3 separate regions of the Homo sapiens genome follow, and regions 1 and 3 are each linked to region 2. The links come from fine-mapping of genetic effects on gene expression. A gene starts in region 2. Each other region holds a variant in brackets. All regions are shown on one strand. Distances are between the middles of the regions. Region 1 has its middle 21 kb from the start of SHH. Region 2 holds the start of RBM33 (RNA binding motif protein 33). Region 3 overlaps DPP6 (dipeptidyl peptidase like 6).

What was found. PIP is the estimated chance that this variant, and not a neighbour inherited with it, causes the effect.
Region 1: its variant is fine-mapped to the expression of RBM33 in lymphoblastoid cells (GENCORD, PIP 0.95).
Region 3: its variant is fine-mapped to the expression of RBM33 in lymphoblastoid cells (GENCORD, PIP 0.95).

The regions. Positions count from the first base shown.
Region 1 is chr7:155,830,103-155,836,441 of GRCh38, forward strand. No RefSeq gene overlaps it. Among named protein-coding and RNA genes, the nearest start is that of SHH, 21 kb to the left of the region's middle. RefSeq lists an enhancer at 5,278-6,270. The variant C/T (reference allele first, on the strand shown) is at 2,632.
Region 2 is chr7:155,641,037-155,647,375 of GRCh38, forward strand. It overlaps RBM33 (RNA binding motif protein 33), which reads left to right and starts at 3,625. Exons shown (of 18, transcript NM_053043.3): 1 at 3,625-3,883. The coding sequence starts at 3,841. It overlaps RBM33-DT (RBM33 divergent transcript), which reads right to left and starts at 3,370. Exons shown (of 3, transcript NR_126344.1): 1 at 3,178-3,370; 2 at 2,432-2,568; 3 at 880-1,934. RefSeq lists an enhancer at 2,564-3,518 and a silencer at 3,443-3,952.
Region 3 is chr7:154,798,116-154,803,115 of GRCh38, forward strand. It overlaps DPP6 (dipeptidyl peptidase like 6), which reads left to right. Exons shown (of 26, transcript NM_130797.4): 13 at 3,240-3,347. Among named protein-coding and RNA genes, the nearest start is that of PAXIP1-AS2, 130 kb to the right of the region's middle. The variant C/T (reference allele first, on the strand shown) is at 2,477.

The sequences.
Region 1 (6,339 bases), 190 kb after region 2:
GGGCTAGTGCTGGAGGTGGCCTCCTTCCCAGAAGAGCTGAGAGATGCAAGGGAAGCCGGGTCCACGGGGTCCTACCCCGTCCAATGATGACCTAAGCTGTGCAGTCAGGCAGACAGATGCCTTAATGGGGCCCCAGCGCAGTCAGCAGCCGCACCTGGCACGTCCTCTGGGGATGTGGCACTTGGAAAGGAGTGACTCGTAGGAGGATGGGTAAAACACCACCCACTGTGCGTGCCAGGGGAGGAGTCCAAGGCCCTGGATCAGTGAGGCTCTCACCCAGTCCAGCCCTGCACGTCCTCCTTGGGAGGGGTGGGCAAGGGGGACGTGACCTCTGGCATCAATGTATCCACGTGCCTTACAGCAACAGCTCCATCACCACACCCTGCTGGCTGCCCTGTGCTGCCATTTCTGGGCCTCACTGATGCTAAGTTGGAGGATAGTCAGGGAGAGGCCACGTTTGCCAAGTGAAATTGGGAATTACATGAGCGGGACCAAAATCTGGAATTCTCTCTCTCTCTCTCTCTCTGTCTTTTTTTTTTTTTTTTTTTGAGATAGATAGGGTCTTAGTCTGTCATCCAGACTGGAGGGCAGGGTATGATCTTGACTCATGGCACCCCTGACCACCTGGGCTCCAGCCATCCTCCCACCTCAGCCTCCCAGGTAGCTGGAACTACAGGCACGTGCCTGGTTAATTAGGTGGCAGGCTAATTTTTGTGTTTTTTTAGAGGTGAGGTTTTGCCATGTTGCCCAGGCTGTAAATCTGGAATTCTCAGTCAAGGTGGAGGACCTGAGAGAGCTGGGGACATTTGGGAGGGAGGAGTGGGCTGAGCGTGCAGGGGGCAGACAGGGATGGGGTAAGAGGCGGACCCCGGCAGTGAAGTCAGGTTCCGAGGCGAAGGAGCCATCCCGAAATTACCCAGATGAGAAATCTTGTTTCCGAAGCGCCTCTGCGTTCCGGGCACCAAGGGAGAGTGAGTTCTGACCGGGTTGTCGGGGGGTCAGGGACTCTGCCCTCAGCCACTTTGGCTGCTGGTTCTGCCGAGCCACTGCCCGAACAGCACCCCGGATGCACCCGAGGAGGTGAGGCTCTGCGGACCGGGTGCCCTGTGAGTGACAGGGGAGAGGCCCCTGAGGTTTGCACAGTGCCTGTCACTTCTCAAAGCACCTCCTTCGTTCTGGCAATTTAGTGAGGGAGGCTGGGCAGCCGGGGCTGTCCATTTTATAGAGGAGGACACCAAGCCTCAGGGAGGGAGAGGGAAGCCGGTGGAGCCGGGCAGAAGCCTGTGGAGCTGGGTAGAGGCCGGCGGGTTTCCCAGCAGCGGTCTTCTGCATCTTCTGGCTGAGTCCTCCGCTGTCAGGAGACCCCGGCCTGGGCCAGGAGGTCCGATTCTGGGATGCGAACGTGGTGGGGCTGTTGCCATAGATACCGATGTGGTCACCAGCCTGAAACCCTTGAGCCACGGAGAGATCAGACGGTGGTCCCCACTCCTCAGCCTGGAGCCTGGCAGAGACGCTCAAGGAAGAGGGTGGGCTGACCGCGCACGCCTCTCCTTTCTTCATATCCTGCGCGGCTCGGGCGCTGTGCAGGAGGCCTGTGCTCAGCGAGGAGAGAGACAGAGAGTGCAGTGGGAGGAGCGCGGGGTCGGGGGGCTCTGCTTCCCACGGTGCGCCTGGGAGCCTCTTTGCCTCTTGGGGCCTCAGTTTTTCCAAATGTAAAACCAGGGCAGCCCTTCAAGCCCCTGGCCAGTGACACACAGAGACGAGTAGATAAGGACACCAGGGCAGACTGTTCCGAAAGCGGTGAGCCGGCCATTTCAGCGCTGGTTCTGCATGGACTTTCCTCCTATGGAGGCTGGAATCAGCTGGTGCAATCCTTACAATTCTGGTGGGAAAATTCCATCAGGCCTTCTGCAAACACACAAACTGTTTACCCTCACACACCCCATCTCTGCAGGGGCCTCGTGTACTCAGAACGCACCAGTAACCCCCACTTGGACGCTGCTTGCTCTGGAAACATTTCTAACTTGGTTATCTGGCTGCAAACCTCCAGCAGTTTCAGAAATAAAATGACAGAAAGGGGAGGGATTCTTAGAGGTTGACTTCATGAAGGGAAGAGATCGAAAAATGATACAAGCTGGGCGAAGGGACTCCTGGCCAGCAGGCTGGGGACACCCGACCATTCAGGGTGCTCAGCTCGCTCCTGCCTTCAGTCCCGCCAGACTTTGCGATTGTGTAAAGCAAGGAACAGGCACGTGAGGAAGGCAGCTTTGTCCAAAGCGGGCTTCAGTGATGCAGAGAAATGTTGTAATCCTTCTTGAGAAACATTTGCATGCAAAATGGTTGACATACAAGACATTTTAACATTTAGAGGAAGGTTAGTTCCAAGTTTCCAGTATCCTCCTAAGACCGGCGGGAGCTCACATCTCAGAGCTCTTCAGGAACACGAGGTGAGGACCAGCCCCTTTCCCAACCCCGAGGTGGCAGAAGGAGTGAGCTGGAGCCAGAAGTTCCCTGCCCCTTGCCTCCCCGCAGGAGCTGGGCCTTAGACAGCTCCCCAGGAGCTGGGCTGGGAGGAGAGCTGGGGGCAGGGAGGGTGCCTGTGAGGCAAAGCTTCTAGATGTCAAGGAGAAA[C/T]GGGACTGGGTCAAGGCTCAGCCAGTCTTGAGTGACCCTGGAGAGCTGGGATCTGCTGGTCTGTGGGCCCAGAGATTTTCTCTGCGTCTACTCACCTTCCAGCCCCCACCCTGGCCCTGGCCCTGAGACCTCCCCACATGGATCTCCTGCCTCGGTGCTCCCTGCAGTTGGATGAGCAGCCCCGGTGGTCCTGACAAGGAGTGAGAGCAGTCGCTACCCCGGTGTAGCCCATGCTGCTGTCTTCAGCCCAGCAGGTCAGTCCTGCTCTGTGACTTTGCTGAGATGGGCTTGGCACTTCCTTGGGTCAAATGCTGCTCTGACCCTGCATTTGCTTCAGTTTCCGGGGGAAGAGAATCTTCCAGAGTGACAGAGAAGCGCCAAAGGATGTTGGAGCTGGAAGGAACCGAGGCCCCAGCCAATCTCATCAGGTTTTCAACTTCAGCTGCACGTTAGAATCATCTGGAAAGTTCTAGAAAAATGCCTCTGCCTAGCCTCACTGCCAGAAGCCATGACTTAATTTGTTTGGGATGGAGCCCAGGAATTATCTTCCAGGTGATTCTGATGTGTAGCCAGGGTTGAGTTTCACGGATCCCAAAGCTGTGTGGCTCAGAGTGGGGAAGTGAGTTGGAGGGGGGGCTGCGGCGCAGGCCTCTGATGGCCTCACACCCTCTGCCCGCCATGGCTTGCTTCTCAGAGACTGTGGGTTTAGGCTATGGAATAATTTTCAAAAATACCAATTCTGGATCTTGCAGGCATTTAGAGTCCCCCAAACAATTTCTTTGGTGAATCCTGAAAACAGCCTTTTTTACAAACTTCTGTGCATCTCAGCAGAAACTAACAGCAAAATGGAACTTGGCTTAAGCTCTGGAGACATTTGAAATCTTGGCTAGTTGCACAATGATGTCTCGTGGCATTTCGGCGTGCTGGGGATCCTTTGTGGGCACGGCTGCGGTGAGGCTGCTCTTTGGGGGCTCTTTGACTGGTTGTCCAGCCGCACCTGCTGGGAACCTGAGGCCGAGTCTGCACCACCCCCATCGGAATTCCCAGGCAGTGCCCTGGGAACCTGCCTGCCTCTGCGCTGAGTGGTGACAGCTGGTGGGTTGTCCCTCCCATCACGGAAAGCTGCTCCCAAGAAAGCCTGAGGCTTTGGACACGCAGTGGCGTTTCTGATGGAGGGTGCCAAAGCCTGGGGACACCCGCTTCCTCCTGAAAAACCAAACGGTCTTTGGTTCTGCTGCCTGGGAAGTCCAGCCATGCCTCCACCCTGTCCTCTTTGGGGCCGAGTGGGGAGCATGCAGCTGGGGGCCAGCTGACACATCTGGGGTGACAGAGGTCTCTGGCAGCTGGCATTCTAAAGGCCAGAGGTTTGCAAGTGCACTGTGAGTTTCCTGCTCTGTTCTTTAAGGAGAGCTTGGTTCTCAAAAAAGTGCCATTTGCTAGATGAGGCTCAGTGTGGCTCAGTGGGGATGGAGTGCTCTGGAAGGACCTGGGGGGATGGGAGGACGGGGGCTGCCCAGTGGGCCAAGCCCCATTCATAGACTGCTAGGCCACTCCTTAAGCCCATAGCGGGAATTGGTTGGTGGTTTTCTGGGTCCATGAGCTGTCACTTAAAAAAAAAAAAGATTTTTCAAGATGTAATACGCTCACCATACATTGACCCGTTTGAATTGTATAATCCAGTGGTTTTCAGCATATTCACAGATACGTGCAGCCATCACCACAGTTTCGGAGCTATTCATGACCTCCAAAAGTAACCTTGGGCTCTAACCCTCCCTTCCCCCGGCCTCTCCCAACAGATCCACTCTCTGGCTCTGCAGGTTTCCCTCGTCTGGACATTTGGCATGAATGAAATGGCACAATGCAAGGTCCCTGTGGCAGCTTCTTTAGAACAGTCACACAGCACGATGCTTCCAGGCTCGCCTGTGTTGTGGTGTATGATGGGGCTCCTTGTCACTTTGTGGCTGAGCGACACCACAGGGCACGGAGGAGCGTTTTGTGTGTCCGTTTGTCCACAATGGATGTTTGTGTTTTCTCCACTTTTGGCCATTGTGAGCCGTGCTACTGTGGCTGTGATGTGTGCAGCTCTCCTGGGTGTGTGTCTAGGTGTGCATTCCTCGACTGGAATCTGCATTCGCTTCGCAGGAGCCAGGTCAACAGCGGAGGCAGAGTGAGGGGTGAGGCCTCCCTCAAGGGTTGGGTGGTGAGAGGGGAAGGCCCGGGGCTGGTGGCCGTTCTCAGAGTTTCCCTCCGCAGAGCCAGCCCTTTATCATGTTGCTCTGTGAAGACAGTGACTGTCTCTGAGCCCCTGCCCTTAGTCAGGGTCTCTGAGTTCATTCCTATAGTTCTTTTTTGGTGGGAAGGAGCAGTCAGGGTCTTGCTCTGTTGCCCAGGCTGGAGTAAGTGGTGCAGTCTTGGCTCACCGCAGCCTTAACCTCCTGGGCTCAAGCGATCCTCCTACCTTAGCCTCCCAAAGTACTGGGACCACAGGTGCACACGCCAGGCCTGGTTAATTTTTTTTTTTTAATTTTATGTTTCGCAGAGATGGGGTCTCACTATGTTACCTAGGCTGGTCTTGCACTCCTGGGCTCAAGCGATCCTCCTGCCTTGGCCTCCCAAAGAAATGGGATTATGGGCATGAGCCACTGTACCTGGCTCCTTCCTATAATTCTTCCAATTTCTGTATATAATAAAAATTATTTACAAAACGATATGTTTAGAGATTATACGTAGGAAATGACTCCTATATATATAATTTCCTGGAATTCTCATAACTCCTTTAGTTTATCTTCTGAAATGATGGACAAAAACACACTCTGAGGACAGACTTCTGAGCCACAGGGAAGGCCCTGGTGCCTGCAGATGGTGACGACACAGGCGAGGCCCAAGGGGGATGGCATGGGGCCCGAGCTGGGCGGCTGCCCTCTCTCCCTGAGCTCAGGGTCCCCTGGGCCCAGTCACTTCCAGTCCAGGCTCCTGGTCTATGCTCCTAGGAAACTTGCCAGTGCTCCTTGTGTCTCTAGGCCTCAGTTTCCCTAGCTTTGAAACAGCACACCCGTTGCCATTTGACGAGTGTGTATCTTCACATCTCTCATGTCCCCACTGCAAGAACCTGCCCACACCTCCTCAGCATCCCTAGTTCCAGCCACGCCCAGGTCACCCTCCCCAGGCACCTGTGACACCACCTGTGGGTAGGAGGCCACGGGCTCAGGTTCTGGGAGCAGCCCTTGGTCCAGGGCAGACGGATGCTGGAGGATAAGCCCCAGTCCCTGGTGGGCTGACCCAGCTGTGTCCTGTGCTGATCACCAGAGCTCCTGGCGGGACAGAGCCCCACTGTCTGCGCCAGGGACCTGCCTGTCAGTCACCCTGCATCAACTCCTGGGGTCACCGCCCCACAACTGCTTGCTCTGAAATCCCTGTCTTAGGAAACTGAGTTGAGACAAGGATTCCTTTAAAAATCCCTCCTTGCCTTTTGTTGCTCGTGGACAGCAGGGGTTTGGGGTGATTGCATCTGAATAAACTTCCCTTGGCTGTTCCTGCCCGGGCCCCGGGCTTCTCTGATCTGTTGTTGTGGAGACCGATTCTTCTTGCCCTTTGTGGTTGAGTCAGGTAAGGGAGGCCTGTTTATCCATGAACACACACAGCGCTTGGCACAAACATTAATGGGTAGAGACAAGGTGTGAGCGCAGCTCTGTCGGTGACTGTCACCTG
Region 2 (6,339 bases):
GTTCAGATACAACAAAAAGGAAGCACTCTCTGGCTACTCTAGACAGTCTCTTCTTGATTTTTTTCATCCTTTATTTCCTTAAACCTTTCAAATATTGTCCTTTATGGTAATTTTAATAACTAAAGTCCCTAGGAGGTCAATCTAGTTTGTATTTTTCACTTACAGTGGTTTCTTCCCTCGTGCATTTTGTGATCTTTGATTTTAAGTCCATAGTTGGTTGACCTTAAACTGTGAAGAATATAAGGGGATAATTTGAGAAAGCCCTTCCAGGATCTCTGGCCTAATTTGGGAGCCTGGGGTTTAGATTCCCTCCTCAAAAGCTGTCCAAGAATTTGCTTCCTATTAGCAGTGCAAATGGGGATGACTTCCCCAGTGAAACCCTGAACTTCCTGTACACTACTAACTGCTCAGGCTTTGGATCTGTTTTTTTTTTGTTTGTTTGTTTTGCTTAAGAGATGGGGTTCTGTTTGGTCACCCAGACTGGAGTGCAGTGGTGCTATTACAGCTCATTATAACCTCGAACTCCTGGACTCAGATGATCCTTCCGCCTCAGCCTCCAGAGTAGTTATGCAAAGCAGTTAAAGGTATGCACCACCATGCTTGGCTATTTTTATTTTTATTTTTTGTAGAAATGGGGTTTTGCCATGTTGCCCATGCTGCTCTTGAAATCCTTGGCTCAAGTGATAACCACCTGCTTAGCCTCCCAATGCATTGGGATTACAGGTGTGAGCCACTGTGCCCAGCGTTTTGCTTCCTTCTTGATCCTTTGGAAACATTATTCCTAAAACCTAGCAATACAACAAAAAATGTTTTCCACAGAATCTGTTTTGTTGGAGGAGGGGAACAGAATTTCCAGTTCATCATTACTGAGACGAGAAAGACTTCTATATTCGCTTTATTTACAAAAAAGCAAAGCTTGCTTTTAAGATTTTCAGTAGGATATGTATGAAACTGCAGCGCTCACTAGGTAGTCTTCTTAGGTTTAACCCCTGACACTCATATAATGCCACGCCTGGCAGCAGCTCCACTTTGGAGGACTGAGGAGAAGAAACACACTTCACTGCGGTACAGGCATGGAAGAGCTCTACTCTTTGGCCCAAATGCAATTCAGGAGCAAACCATTATGGGTGGGGGCTTGGCTTGGAAGTCCTTGACCGGCGGGAAACCAGTTCCCTGAGTTTGTCTTTTAGATTCCCACATTCAGTTAAGACAGTAACAGAGGCTAAAGGTATGGCTTCCCACTAGGTGTTTTAAGATTATTCAGTACTTTCAAGCCAGAGGCAGTCTACATGTCAGAGGTCATTTTTACCATGAGCAATGTTTTATTTATTTATTTGGAGATGGAGTTTCACTCTTGTCACCTAGGCTGGAGTGTAGTGGTGTGATCTCGGCTCACTGCAACCTCCACCTCCTGAGTTCAAGTGATTCTTGTGCCTCAGCCTCCCAGGTAGCTGGGATTACATGCATGTGCCACCACACCCAGCTAATTTTTGTATTTTTAGTAGGGATGGGGTTTTGCCATGTGGGCCAGGCTGGTCTTGAACTCCTGACCTCAGGTGATCCACCTGTCTTGGCCTCCCAAAGTGTTGGGATTACAGGCGTGAGCCACCGCGCCTGGCCTACAACCAATGTTGTTTTATACCACAATGAACACTCTGCCTTCATAAGGTTTCTATGACAAGTTAAAGTTAACACAAAGTGAAGTTTGTTCATAGATAAGGACAAGGGGTTGGTTAAATCTTTACTCACAGTAATTTACCAAGAACTTCAAATACTGGGTGTCCACGCTAAAAAATTTTTCCAGTGGGTGTTTGATCAAAAAATTTTATAGACTCTTGTTCTAGAGAAATTCAGTTTCAAGTGGCTTATGAGATTGTTTCATCTGTTAATTTGGTTTTTTGTGGAATTCTTCTGAAGATCACCACTGAATTATCCTGAAAAATATTTTCTGAGTTAGGCATGCCATCCTCCACAGTTCAAAAAATAATGAAAGGTGATAAAGAGTTCAAGCCATTTAAATATGGATGTATTAACGTGCTTTTTAATAGAGACCATTTTTCAATGAGTTGCTTGCAAAACATTTTTTTTGGGGAGTGAGTTCTCACAGTTGAATAATTTTTTTGTTTTTTTTTGAGACAGAATCTCGCTCTGTCACCCAGGCTGGATTGCCGTGGCGCAATCTCGGCTCACTGCAACCTCCGCCTCCTCGATTCAAGCAATTCTCCTGCCTCAGCCTCCTGAGTAGCTGGGATTACAGGCGCGTGCCACCACGCCCAACTAATTTTTGTATTTTTAGTAGAGACGGGGTTTCACCATGTTGGTCAGGCTGGTCTCAAACTCCTGACCTCGTGATCCACCCACCTCAGCCTCCCAAAGTGGTGGGATTACAGGCGTGAGCCACCGCGCCCGGCCAGCATTTTATTATACGTACCGTTTTATCATCTCTTCACCCATCCACCAATGCATCTCCTGTATGGACGTCTTGATTGTTAACTCACGGCACTGGACCTCCAGTTTCATGCCTCTCCACATTGCAGGGTCCTCTACGTTGTTGTATCAGTCACCTTTCTAAAATACAAATCTTACCATGTAAATTGTTTCTAAAATCTTTCAATAGACCCCATAGACTCAGAAAAACGTCCCAAAGTCCGGAATCCTGGCCCCTGCCTACCTTTCCAGTTTCATTGCTGGGTCAGAACGCCTCACCTAAGCCCCACATTGACCGATATGGAATCAATGTTTACAGCCGGTGTGTACTTAATCAACCCCCTTCCCCGACTGCGACCACTCAGATGCGCCTTCCCGGGCCCCACACCCCAAAACCCCTGAGCCCTTTCGTCCACAGCTGTCTGACCACCCAGCACCCTTTCCTTTATGTCAAGTATGAGGATTTCGTTTCTTAACCTTTCTCACTGCTCAAAATGCAAACTCAGACATGAGTGCCGGGCGCTATCCGTCCTGCTCACGTCTTGTTCTCAGGGCCGCAAGGCGCAGGGGCAGTAAGGGCCGAGAGCCCATCAGGGTCCGGCGCTGCCCGCTGCCCAGCCGGGCGCGGAGAAGGGGACGGGGGTCCGGGGTCGCGGGTCCGGAGGGTCTCGGGTTGTAGGAAGTGAGGGCTCGCGGGCGCCGCACGAGTGCGCGTGCACGTTAGCCCGGCGCGCGCGGCACTCATCTCACCTCGCGGAAGCACCTGCCGGAGCTGTGTGCACCCTTTCCTGCCCTCAACACAAGCCGTCGGCGTTCACTACTGTAGCTCATTCAGACCCCACTCTCCAACCTACTGTCCAGGCACAGAAACGACAGTTAAGGTTCCCCCGGACCGTACGCTGGACCTTGCCTCCCCGGCTCCTAACGGGAGACGGGCTGCCGTAAAGCTTCGCTTTGCCGACTGCTGCAAAGCGCCTTACGACTGAACCCGGAATCGACCTATGGCCAGCAGTCGTCCCCGCCCTGCTTCAAACATTTGGGTTTCAGGAGCCGGGCGGAGGTGACTGCCGCGTGTTTGCGTTGCACGCCCACCGCCCGAAACACGGCGGCGGCCTCAGGGCTGCTGCGGCCTCGGCGGGGGCAGGCCCCGGCGCCCGCCCGCCTCCCGGCCTCCATCATCCCAGGGTGCACCGCGGCGGGCGCGGGCGCGCGGCCATGTTGCGGTAGTTTGTTGTTTTCTTCCTGCGGAGGCGAAGGGCCAGCTGTGGACCGCGAAGCGCCCGGCTTCGCCTCTGCCTCCTGCAGCCCCCTCCCTTCTCTGTCCTCCGTCACCCGTACCCGGGCCCGGACCAGGCACGTCGGCCCACCAGCTGGCTTGGTGGGGGAGGCTGAAGGCCGGGCCCCGCGAGTGCCATGGCGGCCGCCCTGGGAGCGAGCGGAGGAGCAGGCGCCGGAGGTACGTGAGGCAGCCGGACTCTGGGGGCCAGGACCGCGCCGCGGTGGGCGGGGGTGTAGGCCGGGGGGCCTCCCCGCTTAGGAGAGGACGAGGCTCTCCCCGGCTCCGACTCTCTTTGTGTTCGGCCTATTCCGTTTTCTCCCTCGCCTTCCCTCGCTATTGTCATTCTCCCTTTCTCGCTCCTCCTCTCCGCTGTGCAGATCGTACTTACCTGTGAACTTCTGTGTGTCCTCTACTTTGCAAGGCTGCCTAAGTGTCAGGCCCATCTCTGGCGTTGGCGGGCATTAAGTGCCGAAGCCGGCCTGGTGTCCTATGGGTAGGAGAGCGCCCCCCCCACCCCCCGAGACAGTGTCACTTAGGGAGAGCGGGGCAGGTCGCTGTAGGGTGGGTGTTTAAGATTGTGGGGCCATCCTGACAGATTTAGATTGATTTGAAGCCCATTACAAAAACATAACGAAAAGATTCACCTGTGTGAAGGAATGTGCGACAGTAGGCCAGTTTGGAAAGTGAGATTTCTTGAGAAAGTCTCAATAAATCCCTGTTTTAAATTAACTTATTTGTTGTCTAATAACCTGTTAGTGTTTTATGTGCGTCTTCCAAAAGTGAAAACGTGACACAAAAGGTTTAGATACTGAGTCAGTTCCTTTGGATAGTTTTTCTTGTTTGCAAGCATAAACAGTATTGATGAAACACCTATCTCTAAAAAATTGTAGGTAAATTACTTTCAGGTAAAATTACATATCACTGGGGGTTTTAAAAACGTGGAGAGATACTTGAAAGTGACTTTTTAAGTGATTATTTTGAAAACTTTGAAAAGATGGTAAAATATGGATAACAAAAGCATTTGGGATTAGTTCTTACCATTGAAACGTTGAAAAGCCAGTCTAGTGTATACTCGAGAAGTATTTTTTAGTAAATGCTAGCAGATGGTTACGTTGTTATCATCCTGTTTAGGAATTTTGGCCCAACTGTCAAAACGTTTGCCTGACAAAATGGAAAAACAAAAAAGACTAAGTGTAGGAATGTCGCTTCTGGCAATTTGGTTTGCTATATGCCACTTTTCTTTCAGTTTAAATACATGATGTTTGCGTGTTACATCTGAGACTAATTAAAATTTTAAAATGTATAGTTCACCTATCTTTCTGGGGGTCAGAATTACTTGTTTTATAGCATTCCCAGTGTAACCTGGGAACTCTTGGGTGAACACTCTTTTCATTAGAAAGACTAAGGTGTTATTTGTATTTTTTCTCTTTTCTTTCAGTAGTGTACAGTGGAGTTTTCTAGAGGCTGAATAACATGTGAAGACGTTATGCTGATGGCTAATGGAATATATGCTTGTGTATTCTTTTACGTTTCTCATTTTAAATTTCTAAAATAGTAATATCACTGAATGTAATCCAGATAAACAGGCATTTTTGGGTCTTCAATAATTTTGAGGTCAGAAGTTTTGAGAATTGCTATTTTAGAAGAATAAGTAGGCTTTATTCATGATGCTTTGGAGTTTTTCCTTCCATTTTGTCACAAGTGCCAAAGTTTCCTTTGCTCTTCATACCAAACTCCTTGCCAAGATTTGTGAGTTCTGTATGACTTGGTCCCTGCCTACCCCACCAGCATGTTGTGTGATTGCTTCCTTTATCCTGGAAGTTCATCGCATGGACTGCTCCTGTACCCGCTCTTGCCAGGGCTGACTCCTGATCCAGTGGATCTCACGCTTTTAAGGGAGGCTTTCCTTGAGAATTCATTGTATCTGAGGAATGTATGTCCGTTGCTCTTGTGCCTCTCTTGTCTTCATTCTCTAGCACCTTTGTTTGTTTTCTTCAGAACGTTTATCTTAATTTGTAATTTTCTTCAGTTTTTACTTGTTTTTTAAATCTGCCTCCCACAGTAGCCTGTAAACCTCATGAGGACAAAAATGCTACCTGTTTTACCATGCGTTCCACGTGTTCCTGGCACATAGCATGTGTTCAACAAACATTTGGTGAATGAATTAAAGGATGAAATGTTTTCTTTACGAATAGGAAATAATATAATTGTATGCTAAGTTATGTTAGTCATTTCCACGTGATTTACCTGTGTAACTGATTAAATCATGTTAGCTTGGAGAAATATTTACATTGGTAATACCTTATTGAGCTATCGATAGCTTATTTGGCAGCTCAGTTTAGCATATTGTCTAGCACAGTGACTTTCAAACTTCTTAAAATGGCAGCCACAGAAATGTGATTGACATTGTGATTTAGTACATACATAAAAGTTAAAAAAAATTTCATGAACAATACTGGTCCATACTATGCCATGCACTCTAATGTTTTCTATTTCATTACAGTAAAATGCTGGTTGTGACCTGGATTAATTTCACAACCTACAAAATGTTCGAGATTGTCAGTTTGAAAATCACTGGTCTCTTGTATAGTAAGTGGTTAGTATTTATTGAATAAAATAGGTCTTGGCTATCC
Region 3 (5,000 bases), 840 kb before region 2:
CTGTCCCCCTCAAGAGGCATTCTCACAGGGGGAGCTGGCTTCCCAGCTGGCCACCTGCAGTTCTGCCCTCTGGATGGACGGCAGAGTGCATGGTCCCTGGAGGCCCATGGGGGGCCGTGGTTCTGTCCTCCAGCGCTCACTTCATTAGCTCTACAGAGTAGCTACAGAGCCGAGGTCGTCAGCAGGACTTTCCTGTATTAGCGATTGTGTGTCTCATCGCCCATATGAGAACAGCTACTAAAGTGTGGGGTAAGACAGCCTGAATGGGATTCCAGAAACCAGATCCTTCCAAGCAGAATCCAGTCAACACTTAAAAGGTGGCATGAATTAAAATAATTCTTACTGTTTTCAAATGTAAAGTTTAAAGCATTTACTAAGCACACAGCTAAATTTTTAAAATAGCTGCTTAAACGTATGCAATGCTGCCATGAGTTGGAAACATAAGGTTCTGTGACAGGTGTGTTTTCCTGGGATGGAGCGTCCCTGGGTCAGGTCAGCCCATCAGCTGCAGTTGTGATTGTGACACTGGGTTGGGGCATCCCGCCCATGGCAGCAGTTGGGAGGCCAGGATGTCTCTGAAGACCCTACAGGTTGTGAGTCTGCACCTGTGAAGATTGCAGCTCCATGGTCTGCAGGAAGATTTAATTTCAAACAGTTTCTTATGACATTGTTTTTTTCGTAAAGGAATTCATGGACCCTATTTTTCAAAAACAATCTGTAGTGTTTCTGCATCCCTCGAGTTACTGTGATATCCTGGAGAACAACTTAGTAACTTTTTAAGACTGAACCTGCCACCTGCTGCCAGCGAAGCCATTGGCTGCTGCTTCAGACAGAGCCTAAGGGGGTTTTCCTGGGAGGGCTGCAGGCATGAGTGAGGGAGACACATGGAGGCCACATGCCCTCTACCCATCCATCTCCAATGGGTCACAGAAGCTTGCCCCAGCTGGCCCAGGAGAAACTGGCATCTGGAAGGTCCTGCAGACCTCAGGGAGACCCGGCCTGCTTAGGTCCACCGATCTTCCAAGGACCCGGTGCAAGAACAGAGGTGAGTTGTAGCGAGCCTGCTAATTTTGTGTCATCTGAGCTGTTCATCTGAGCCGTTCATCCTCCTCTCTTCTCTTCCCAACTCCTTCCTGGAATCCTCAGTACGGTCACCCGCAGAGATTCCCCATGAGCCAAACAGAAGAGGAAAATGCATGTGTGGAGACCCACCAAGTTCCCTCTCCTCTAGGAATATTCCAGAGAAGCAGGCAATCCCCCCTGCCACATACACACCCTGTCACTGCTGCGCTGACCCTGCAGAGTCAGTCCTGATGCAGACCCATGAGGATCCTCTGCCAGAACCATCTGCATTTGCCATAGAACCCCAGAGCCTATTGTTTTGGTTGAAGGATCGGTTCCATGGATCCATTTCTGACTGTCTTTATTCTTTTATCGGAATTTTGGTTTTGTGATTTCAAAATTTGGGCTGGAAGGGGGGTTGGACAAAATTATTATATCTGAACCATGGGAAAAAAACACTGGCAAAAATGCTACAAATAACTCACAAAGAAGCTCTCATGAGTCAAAAGGGCTCCTTCTTCACAGATCTGCTGAGTGGAGTTGAGGAAACCAGGCATTGTGTGTGATAAATTCTGTTATCCAGAGAGACTAGAAACGCTTCCCCCAAAATCAAATGAGAGACAGAACCAGGATAAAATCCAGGTCCCCTGGTCAACAATCATTGCACTTTGTCACTAAAAATACATTTACCACATGAGAAACCGGGTCTCAGAGAGACTCAGAGGCTTCACCTGTGTTCCGAGGAATGTTTCCCTGACAAGGTAGAGATGACATCACAACGGTGGAGGCCTTCTTATTATAAAAACAATGCTTCTGGCCAGAATTAATTATTTATTACATTTATTTAGAGTATCTTTGTCTGCCAAACGTGCAAACATTTCCCCCAGAAAACTGAAGGAATATAGCGCTACCCGCCGCACAGTTGGCAAATAGAAGTGCATTTTAAAAGCCAAATTAACCGCTGGTTTTTCCATTTCCTCTGCTTTTAAATACCATGCTTCCAACTCTAAATAGGAAAATAAATGTTTGCAGATTAAAGGTTCCATTTTATTGCAAATATTCATGAAGATTAAATGTCATTTTAATCACATGTTAGTTTATTTCTCTGGGCATATCATATCTGCATGGGTTCACTCACTGTAGGGAAATGAGTTTTGCTTGTGCCAGCTGGGGTTTATTTACCATTAGTTCTCATCCCCGCATTCGTGTGAAGCTCCTTGAGTCAGAAAATACATCTCGCAACCAACTAATTGGTGTTCACGGATGGAAACTTTCAAACTTGGGCTTCAGAGAGGCCAAGGTACCGCGGTAGCAAAATCCTTTTTCGCCCATCAAAGCAACAGCCACCCTGTGGGCTGGTGGAAGGCTGAGGCCGCTGGCTGTTCACTGTCCGGGGACCAGGCAGAGATGGTGG[C/T]GACACCTGCCCTAAATCCAGCCTGGAACCCTTCCCCCAGGGAAAACTGGGCATGCTGATTCTGTTTCCAGGGAAAAGAGACAGTAGATCCAAGCAAGTGTTGTCATCCAGTGTGGCCCGAGGTGGAGCGTGTCCCTGGGACTGCTGTCCCCTCCCACCTGTGTTTTAGAACCCGTGGCATTTGTCCTTGTGTTTATTTTCTTTTTTTCTTGCCTTCTTGATGGGCTATTCAGTGTGAGATCAATTGTATTCAATAAGAAGAAAAGACAGGATTGAAAGAATAGATTTTGCTTTTAGGCAAAATCTGGTTTGGGATTGTTGAGAATTATGTTTTTTTCTGATATATAATAAATGCCACTGGAGAAATCTCACAATACACTCTGGTTTCAATGGGCAATAATTCAAGGAGGAAGCACCTCCTTTTGAGTTTTGAGAGCAGAGTTCCTGTTCTCACTGGTGAGCTTGGCGTGCACATGGGGCTGGGCTTTGTCTCGGTGCTGTGTAGACTGAGGGATGCCTTTTTATTTGCCACTGCCGGGGCTGTAGCCTCTTAATTCCTCCATCTTCTTCTTTTAGAAAACGTAACAGTTGACTCATGATTCCCGAGGAAAGTGACGGCCTCATCAAGCACTTATTATTTCAACTGTTCCTCTCCTTAGAAATCACATAGAAAATGTATCTCGGGGTGTATTTTATCCTGGTTCAACCTCTTCAGAATAAATGATGTTTTAGTTGTGGTTTCATCCGTGGCCTTTGTCCACAGAATGAAGAACCTGTGTTCTCCAAGGATGGCCGAAAGTTTTTCTTCATCAGAGCCATCCCCCAGGGAGGACGAGGGAAATTCTATCACATCACGGTGTCCTCGTCCCAGGTAAGTCCTGCTAGTTTCCGGAGCTGAACTAGAAACTGGCCTGCTAGAGGCCGTGGGGTGACAGCCTCTAGGGCTGGGCACACTTGCGTTTTCGAGGACCCCAAGGAATCTGAAGGTGGTTCCCGAAGGCAGGGCAGGGCATGGCGCTGGTGAGTGCAGAGGTTCCCATCAGGCCTGGTGGAACCTTGCTCTATCTGGTCACGTGCGAGAATGTGAATGACGCTTCTGCCAAGGTCAGCAGAGACCCTGGGGTCCCCTGTTCAGTGTAAGGCCAAGGATGTTGGAGGACTGTCTGTGCCGGGGGCCCTTTCCTTCTCCCTCTGCTGAGGGTCTCCTTAACATACTCCCCGCTGAGGCATGGCTCCATGCACTCAACATCCCTCAGGGGTCCAGCCTCCCATGCTGCCCTACCTCCACCCGGAGTTGGATGCAGGTATTATTTTATTATGTGACCGCTACCAGCCATCACTCACTGGTTCTGGGGTCTGGCGAGTTCGGAATGGAGCATCCCTGAGTAGGGAATCTCAGAGATTAATATACGTGAATCTAGGATCAAAAGTAGACATCTCGGGGTCACCATCTCCTGAAGAGGTCACCTCAGGGAGCCTCACGCCTGCAGGACGGGGCTGCCATGGTGTTGACTTTGGGGGACTCTGCCCTGAGGAAGAAGGGAAGCATGATCTTGGATCTCCTCAGTTTTGGAGGCAGTCTAAAGTTATTTGGGATCAGGGTAAATGAATGAAATTTGATTAGAGAAAATGTTAATCACAAATATTCTATGGCTATGACATAGAAGGCTCATATTTATGATGAGGCCTCAAAGGCAATTTCAAAAGAAAATCCAAGAACATCCGCACTAAGAGCAGCTCTGATGGAATCAGGGTGGGGGCTGCGGGACCCCTGGGATGGAATCGGGGTGGGGGCTGCGGGACTCCTGGGATGGAAATGGCGTCTCTTGGAGGTTCAGGTGCAATTTTTTCTCAGTGCACTTCATGACACGATTGATAGAATGTCTGCAAGCTGTTGCCTTTGCTTTTTCCTGCGGTCTTCATTCTACCATCCAAATTCTTTTGTTTATTATTTTACATCACTTATATCAAGATTTTAAAATGCTGGCCAGGTGCGGTGGCTCACGCCTGTAATCCCAGCACTTTGGGAGGCCAAGGCAGGTGGATTACCTGAGATCAGGAGTTCAAGACCAGTGGCCAACATGGCGAAACAAAAATTAGCTGGGCATGGTGGCACCTGCCTGTAGTCCCAGCTACTTGGGAGACTGAAGTAGGAGAATTGCTTGAACCCGGGAGGCGGAGGCTGCAGTAAGCTGAGATCGTGCCACTGCACTCCAGCCTGGGTGACAGAGTGAGACACTGTCTCAAAAAAAAAAAAAAAAAAGATTTATAAATGCTTCAGTGTTTTCATTTGGCTCCCAGTCTTGTATTTATCCAAGTTGCCATCATTTGCCCGGAGCCCTATCAAACATTCCAGCAGGAAGCAGGTCTCCTGCACTGCCCATGAGGCACCACCTCCTGCAGGTTCCCAGGAACCCCTCGGGGGGCCCCCAGGGCCTTCCCTTTCAAAACCTGCTTCAAACTCCCCAGCCTCTCCTACACGCTGTCTGCGCCCCCAGGCCCTGCTGCCCCCCAACCCCCATGT